Homo sapiens: one gene and its partner. The protein of the gene in region 1 purifies or fractionates together with the protein of each later gene. This does not show direct contact. Each region holds a gene or a part of one and is shown on either strand. Other genes may lie near its edges.

What was found. Proteins that work in one complex are often made in the same cells at the same time.
Region 2: the proteins of ACTR10 (region 1) and LMNB1 fractionate together in Homo sapiens (co-fractionation; one large-scale study listed by BioGRID). This does not show direct contact.

What each region holds. Positions count from the first base shown.
Region 1 is NC_000014.9:58,206,570-58,210,222, reverse strand, and holds part of ACTR10 (actin-related protein 10), read right to left. Parts: intron 2,288-3,653; coding exon 2,205-2,287; intron 1,225-2,204; coding exon 1,116-1,224; intron 1-1,115. UniProt on the Homo sapiens protein: Part of the dynactin complex that activates the molecular motor dynein for ultra-processive transport along microtubules.
Region 2 is NC_000005.10:126,783,636-126,787,288, reverse strand, and holds part of LMNB1 (lamin-B1), read right to left. Parts: intron 1-3,653. UniProt on the Homo sapiens protein: Lamins are intermediate filament proteins that assemble into a filamentous meshwork, and which constitute the major components of the nuclear lamina, a fibrous layer on the nucleoplasmic side of the inner nuclear membrane.

The DNA of each region.
Region 1 (3,653 bases):
ATCAAAATATGACAGTCCATCATAATCGAATGGCAGACAAAATAATGGCTGTATTCCCCTTATCTAAATAAAGTAGGTATTCTAGTCATATAGAAGATATTAACACAAACTCTAATTATAAATACAGAGAATATTCTACTTTATTCAGATAACAGCTGACACGACTTCTTGTTTTGCTTTATGTTCTCCTTACTACAAATGAAATTCCTGGACTCATGACATCAGTAGGTACTGGAGGCTATGCAACCTGATTCCCTGTACCTGCTTTACAAAAATATAACTTAGAAATATTAAGTGCCTTTACCTCATAAAGACATTGTGATTTTTGGTATTAGGTATGTTTTGAATTCAGTAAATGTATGAAAATACATTTATATGTGCTTAATTTCTTATTCACTTAATACATATAATCTTACATTTTCCCTTGCTGATAAAACCTAAATTTTAAGGCAAAGATTTTTAAAAATTTGAATAATTAAGATTCTGGTCTACTATGAAATATACTAATCTTAAAACATATTCTTGGTGATAAAATAATCCTGATTCCTATAAAATCAAAGCTACAGGTAATATTACTTATATTATGAGGTAAGTCTCATTCCTGGCATTACCAACTTACTCTAAGGGAGGCACTGAATATTCCATTTTAAAGGAATTTGAAGCCTAAAATGACAAAATTCAGAACAGTACAACTAAACAATGGAAGCTAGAAAGATCTGGAAGAAATACATTGCAAAGTCCACAGCACAGAATATACCTTTTAATTCTGAATAAAAAAAAGTCCCCAAATAGAAAAACCTATATTAAAATAAATAAACAGTAATAAAAAGAAATATCCAATTATGTAAGTGTTGGATGAAATGCTAAAGCATGAAATAACCACACAAAGGAAGAAAATAAATGGCCAGTTTGAAGAATCTTCTGTCATCTGGTTCCCCAACTACACTGTGTGCCATACACAATATGAGACAAAATAAGGGCTTTTATTAGTTTAAGTTTTGAGTACCTACCAACAAAAAAAAAGAGAAGAAAGATTCCCTAAAAATTGGTAAGAATTTTATTGCTTCTCTTTTTATTTCAAAAGCAATTTACTTATTTGATATAAAGACAGGTACCTCAAAATATTTGAAAAGAACACGAGTGAGTGTCTCTCTGAAGTGAGAAGGACATAATACCGATTCGATAATCACAACTCGGCGGTCTCTGGGATTCACCAATAGATGCCTGAAAAGTGAAAGTTTTGGTTTTAAAAGTAAAAGTTTTTATTCATTTTGTTAAGTCATACAATTTAAGAACAGTGAAACTGTACTACCTTAGCTTAAGATATTTTATCACAAAAAGACATCTTCATTTTATTACCCCAGAAAGATAACATTTCTGACCTCTTACTATGTACCGTGCAGTGTGCTAGGAAATTCATTAACTTACTTATCTCAGAAACCTAAAATTATAGCCTACTATGATTACCAACTTGAGCCATTATATAGATTTTTTTTTTTTTTTTGAGACAGGATCTGGCTCTGTTGCCCAAGTTGGAGTGCAGAGGGGCAATCTCACCTCACTGCAACCTCAGCCTCCTGGGTTCAAGCCATCCCCTGATCTCAACCTCCTGAGTAGCTGGTACTACAGATGTGAGCCACAGCACCTGGCGATATTTTCTTTTTTTTTAGGTTACAATAGTAATATATGCTCACAAAGCTCCAAATATTATGACACGTAAAACTTGCAAAGTACAAGAACCTTATATCTCTACTACTCAGAACTATCACTGATAGAAGTTTGTATTTTTTTTCATTCTTATGGATGTATGGGGGTATGTTTTAACAGAAATACTCATTCCATAGATGTGGTTCTTTAACTTGCTTATTTCACTTATCAATATATCCCACACACCTTCCTGTACTACTACATACAGATGCAGAACTCTTTTTAAAGAGCTGCATGGTATTTCACTGTATGAATGTAGAATAATTTAATTATCAGTTCACTTCATTAATGAATATTTCATTTTCAGTATCTCTTTATGTCTGCCAGTTTTCTAGTCTTCAAATATATTTTTGAAAAGGTTGAAAATAAGCATGTAAAAATGGCAATAGAAGTCCATTTTTTTTTTTTTTGGCCTCAGCTGTAACACAACCAATTATCACTATGGCATTAGGAAAATCTATCTAATCATAAAAGCTAGAAAACAAAATGTATCTTACCTGAAATATAGTATGTGGATGAATTCCTTTAGGTAGGAATATAATTCTTCTGTATTGATATTATACTGAACAACTCTGACAGGCTGTAAAAAATTAAAATGATTTATTAATTTATATTAATAAAATAACCTCAAATTAAGATTAAAATGTAATTATTTACTAATACATTTTCTGGGAATAAATTAAAAGCAATCTGTATTGAGAATATAAAAATTAAATACAGAGTAATCTCTTAAATTAGGAATCCTTAAGAATCGGAATGTCTAAGATGGCAGAATGTTTTAGTCTGTGGTAATGGAAGTGTGTGTTCATAGGAAGTAAAGAGCATGGCTCACATGCATTTTTCCTCCATCTGACTTATCATTTTGGCTTGAATGATAAAAATCAGCTTTGAGGCCAGGTGTGGTGGCTCATGCCTGTAATCCCAGCACTTTGGGAGGCCGAGGTGGATGGATCACTTGAGGTCAGGAGTTCGAGACCAGGCTGGCCAACATGGTGAAACGCTGTCTCTACTTAAAATACAAAAATTAGCCAGGCGTGGTGGTGTGTGCCTATAGTCCCAGCTACTCTGGAGACTGAGGCAGGAGAATCACTTGAAAACCCTGGAGGAGGCTGCAGTGAGCTGAGATGGCTCCACTGCTCTCTAGCCTGGGCAACAGAACCAGATTCCGTCTCAAAAAACAAACAAACAAACAAACAAACAAATTTCCAGCACTTTGGGAGGCCGAGGCAGGTGGATCACCTGAAGCTAGGAGTTCAAGACCAGCCTGGCCAACATGGTGAAACCCTATCTCTACTAAAAATACAAAAATTAGCTAGGCGTGGTGGCGTGCACCTGTAGTCCCAGCTACTCAGGAGGCTGAAGTGGGAGAACTGCTTGAACCCAGGAGGTGGAGGTTGCAGGGAGGCAGAGGTTGCAGTGAGCCAAGATCGTGCCACTGCACTCCAGCCTGGGTGACAGAGTGAGAACCTGTCTCAAAAAAAAAAAAAAAAAAAAATTCAGCATTGAATAAAAAGCATCAAAGGCTTCCTCAAATACTCAACTTGGTTCAGTCCCTGTTAGTCCAAAAACACTGATATCTTCTCTTTTGCAACATCGCCACACTGAATTACTTGTAAAATGTCCCCCTTTCTGCTAGATTATAAGCTCTATGCACAAGAACTATTTCTGGCTTGCTTATGATATATCTTTCTTCAAATAATACAGTTCCAGGTACATAGTTGTGGTTGTTCATAAATATGTGTGATAAAAATGACAACAAACACCATTAGCACAAAAGCAGCCTACACACATATTACCAAGCCATGAGTGCTAAGTCAATGCTAATATATAACAATGGCTTCACTTATGATCCTCAGAAAGCTCTCAGTACTCTGATGCATCATTGGCAGACCTCTCTTCATTTACTCTTTCAAAAGAAGTACCATCAGCCTAATTTCTTGATTTTA
Region 2 (3,653 bases), on another chromosome or scaffold:
TTTCAAAATTTCACACGGCTCCTAGCCTGCCTTAGGTAGCGGTCCTTGTTTCTCCACAGCAACACCTGGATACTGGCATCACAGCACTTAATATATTTTATTAGTATACTGCACTTACAGTATCACAATCCTGTAGTGTTGGTTTTCTGTCTTCCCCACTAGACTGTAAGTAACTTGATAATGGGGACTGAGTATCCCATTTCTCTATTCCCAGCATCTGGTTCAAGACCTGGCATATAGTACCTGTTCCACAAAAATGTGTCTTGAATAAAGAATGAAAGAACACCCTGTCATGAGTATTAAAGATTTATTTAGAGGTTTTAATTTCTTTTAAATTATTAAGGCATGGAATAAAGTTGGAAAGTAGCTTTTTAAGAAGAGAAAAAAGATAAAAGCGATCTCTTTCAGTAATTCATCTTCACCTTTCTTTAGCAAATGAAGCCCTCAGTATTTCAAACAGCTGTTTCAACTACTGACCACTACCCTTCTGACAAATCCAAAATTACCTCCCTTGAAGGCTACAAACTATCAACGTGAAAAACATGCAACTAGTAGCATTTCCAAAAGTAGCACCCAAAGGGATCTGAAAATCAACTATCCTATCTGAGACTTCAAGTACCAACCACAGATAATGATGCTCTGTGAGCCTGCTACATGTCGGTAAACCAGAGTAATACCTGTAGAACACTGTTGTATGGATGAAATAAGGTTATGTATGTGAACACCCTATCACAATGCTAGAAGTCAGGCTACCATCCTTTCTAGCTTTCATTACTTGCTAAGTAATACCAGGCAAAATACTTAAACTCTCTGAGCCTGAAGTTTCCTTACTCATCAGCAGTTATCATGAGCTTAAAAGATAATGTCTGGCCGGGAACGGTGGCTCACGCCTGTAATCCCAGCACTCTGGGAGGCCAAGGCAGGAGGATCACGAGGTCAGGAGATCGAGACCATCCTGGCTAACAGTGAAACCCCGTCTCTACTAAAAAATACAAAAAATTAGCCGGGCGTAGTGGCGGGCACCTGTAGTCCCAGCTACTTGGGAGGCTGAGGCAGGAGAATGGCGTGAACTCAAGAGATGGAGCCTGCAGTGAACCGAGATCGTGCCACTGCACTCCAGGACTCCAGCCTGGGCGACAGAGCCAGACTCTGCATCAAAAAAAAAAAAAAAAAAAAGATAATGTCTGTAAAGCATCTACTGTAATGCCTGGCAAACAGAATTGGCACAAAATAAATGTCAGCTTTTTTTTTTCCTGCATCTTTTCCCCCACCCCCCAAAGGGAGTCTTGCTTTGTCACTCAGGCTGGAGTGCAGTGGCACGATCTCGGCTCACTGCAACCTCTGCCTCCCAGGTTCAAGCAGTTCTCCTGCCTCAGCCTCCTAAGTAGCTAGAATTACAGGTGCCCACCACCATGCCCGGCTAATTTTTGTATTTTTAGTAGATACAGGGTTTTGCCATGTTGGCCAGGCTGGTCTCGAACTGCTGACCTCAGGTGATCCGCCCACCTCGGCCTCCAAAAGTGCTGGGATTGCAGGCATGAGCCGCTGGTCCCAACCTAAGGGTTGGGCCCAACCTAAGGCCCAACCAAGAATTTTCTTCTTGGTGTTTGTGTTTTCTCCTTTTCTATAATGAATATACATTTGCTGTTTAAAAAATTTAATTTTTGGCCTGGCACCGTGGCTCACACCTGTAATCCTAGCACTTTGGGAGGCTGAGGCAGGCAGATATTGCCTGAGCTCAGGAGTTCAAGACAAGCCTGGGCAACCTGGTGAAACCTCGTCTCTACTAAAATACAAAAAAAAAAAAAGAAAAAGAAAAAGAAAAAAAAAATTAGCCGACGTGGTGGCGTGTGCCTGTAGTCCCAGCTAATCAGGAGGCTGAGGCAGGAGAATTGCTTGAACACGGGAGGCAGAGGCTGTAGTGAGCTGAGATCGTGCCACTGCACTCCAGCCTGGCGACAGAGCAAGACTCAGTTATTAAAAAAAAAAAAAATTAATTTTTAGGCAGGGCACCGTGGCTCACACCTGTAATCCCAGCACTTTGGGAGGCCAAGGCGGGCGGATCACGAGGTCAGGAGATCGAGATGATCCTGGCCGACATGGTGAAACCCCGTTTCTACTAGAAATTAAAAAAAAAAAAAATTAGCCGGGCATGGTGGCGGGTGCCTGTAATCCCAGATATTTGGGAGGCTGAGGCGGCAGAATCACTTGAACCCGGGAGGCAGAGATTGCAGTGAGCCAAGGTTGTGCCACTGCACTCCAGCCTGGTGACACAGCAAGACTCCGTCTCAAAAATAATAATAATAAAATTAATTTTTAAAAATTCGGGCGGAGGGCAGTGGCTTACGCCTGTAATCCCAGCACTTTGGGAGGCTGAGGCGGGCGGATCACGAGGTCAGGAGATCGAGCCCATCCCGGCTAACACGGTGAAACCCAGCCTCTACTAAAAATATAAAAAAAAATTAGCCCGGCGTGGTGGAGGGCGCCTGTAGTTCCAGTTACTCAGGAGGCTGAGTGAGGCAGGAGAATGGCGTGAACCCGGGAGGTGGAGCTTGCAGTGAGCCGAGATGGCGCCACTGCACTCCAGCCTGGGCGACAGAGCAAAACTCCGTCTCAAAAAAAAAAAAAAATTCAAGCCAGGCACGGTGGCTCACGCCTGTAATCCCAGCACTTTGGGAGGCCGAGGCGGGTGGATCACGAGGTCAGGAGCTCAAGACCAGCCTGGGCAAGATGGTGAAACCCCATCTCTACTAAAAATACAAAAAATTAGCCGGGCGTGGTGGCACGTGCCTGTAATCCCAGCTACTCCGGAGGCTGAGGCAGAGAATTGCTTAAACCTGGAGGGGCGGAGGTTGCAGTGAGCCGAGATCGCACCACTGCACTCCAGCCTGGGCGACACAGCGAGACCCTGCCTCAAAAAAATAAAATAAAATAAAATAATAAAAATTCAAATGACAGCCGGCCAGGTGCGGTGGCTCACGCCTGTAATCCCCGCACTTTGGGAGGCCAAGGCGGGCGGATCATCCAAGGTTGGGAATTCCAGACCAGCCTGACCAACATGGAAAAACCCCAAGTCTATTAAAAAAAAAATACAAAATCAGCCGGGTGTAGTGGCGCATGCCTGTAATCCCAGCTACTTGGGAGGCTGAGGCAGGAGAATTGCTTGAACCCGGGAGGCGGAGGTTGCAGTGAGCTGAGATCGCACCACTGTACTCCAGCCTGGGCAACGAGAGCAAAACTCTGTCTCAAAAAAAAAAAAAAAAAAAAAAAAAAATCAAATGACAGCCAAAGCACAATCTCCTTATCAAAGAGGTACACTGTAAAAAGGGTTTAAAACTGATTTTAAAAACTTCCCTGATCCTAAAAATAATGGGACCTATACAGGGTCCCATTACTCAACTGATACCTGAGGCTCATTCTCAACATTTGTACATGAAAGAGACTTACACTAATGGCATAAAAAAAAAGTCTGAAGATTTCTAACTCAGACATATCAGAGGTGACACCATCTATACAAACGAAAGAATAAATATAACCAGCAACTGTGTAAAGACACAAAAAAGAAAAGACCCACCATATTTTAATAGTGCTTTATCTTTCATTCTGCCTGTTTACTTCCTTGAATCTGGGTATGCAAAATATTACCTAGTCTC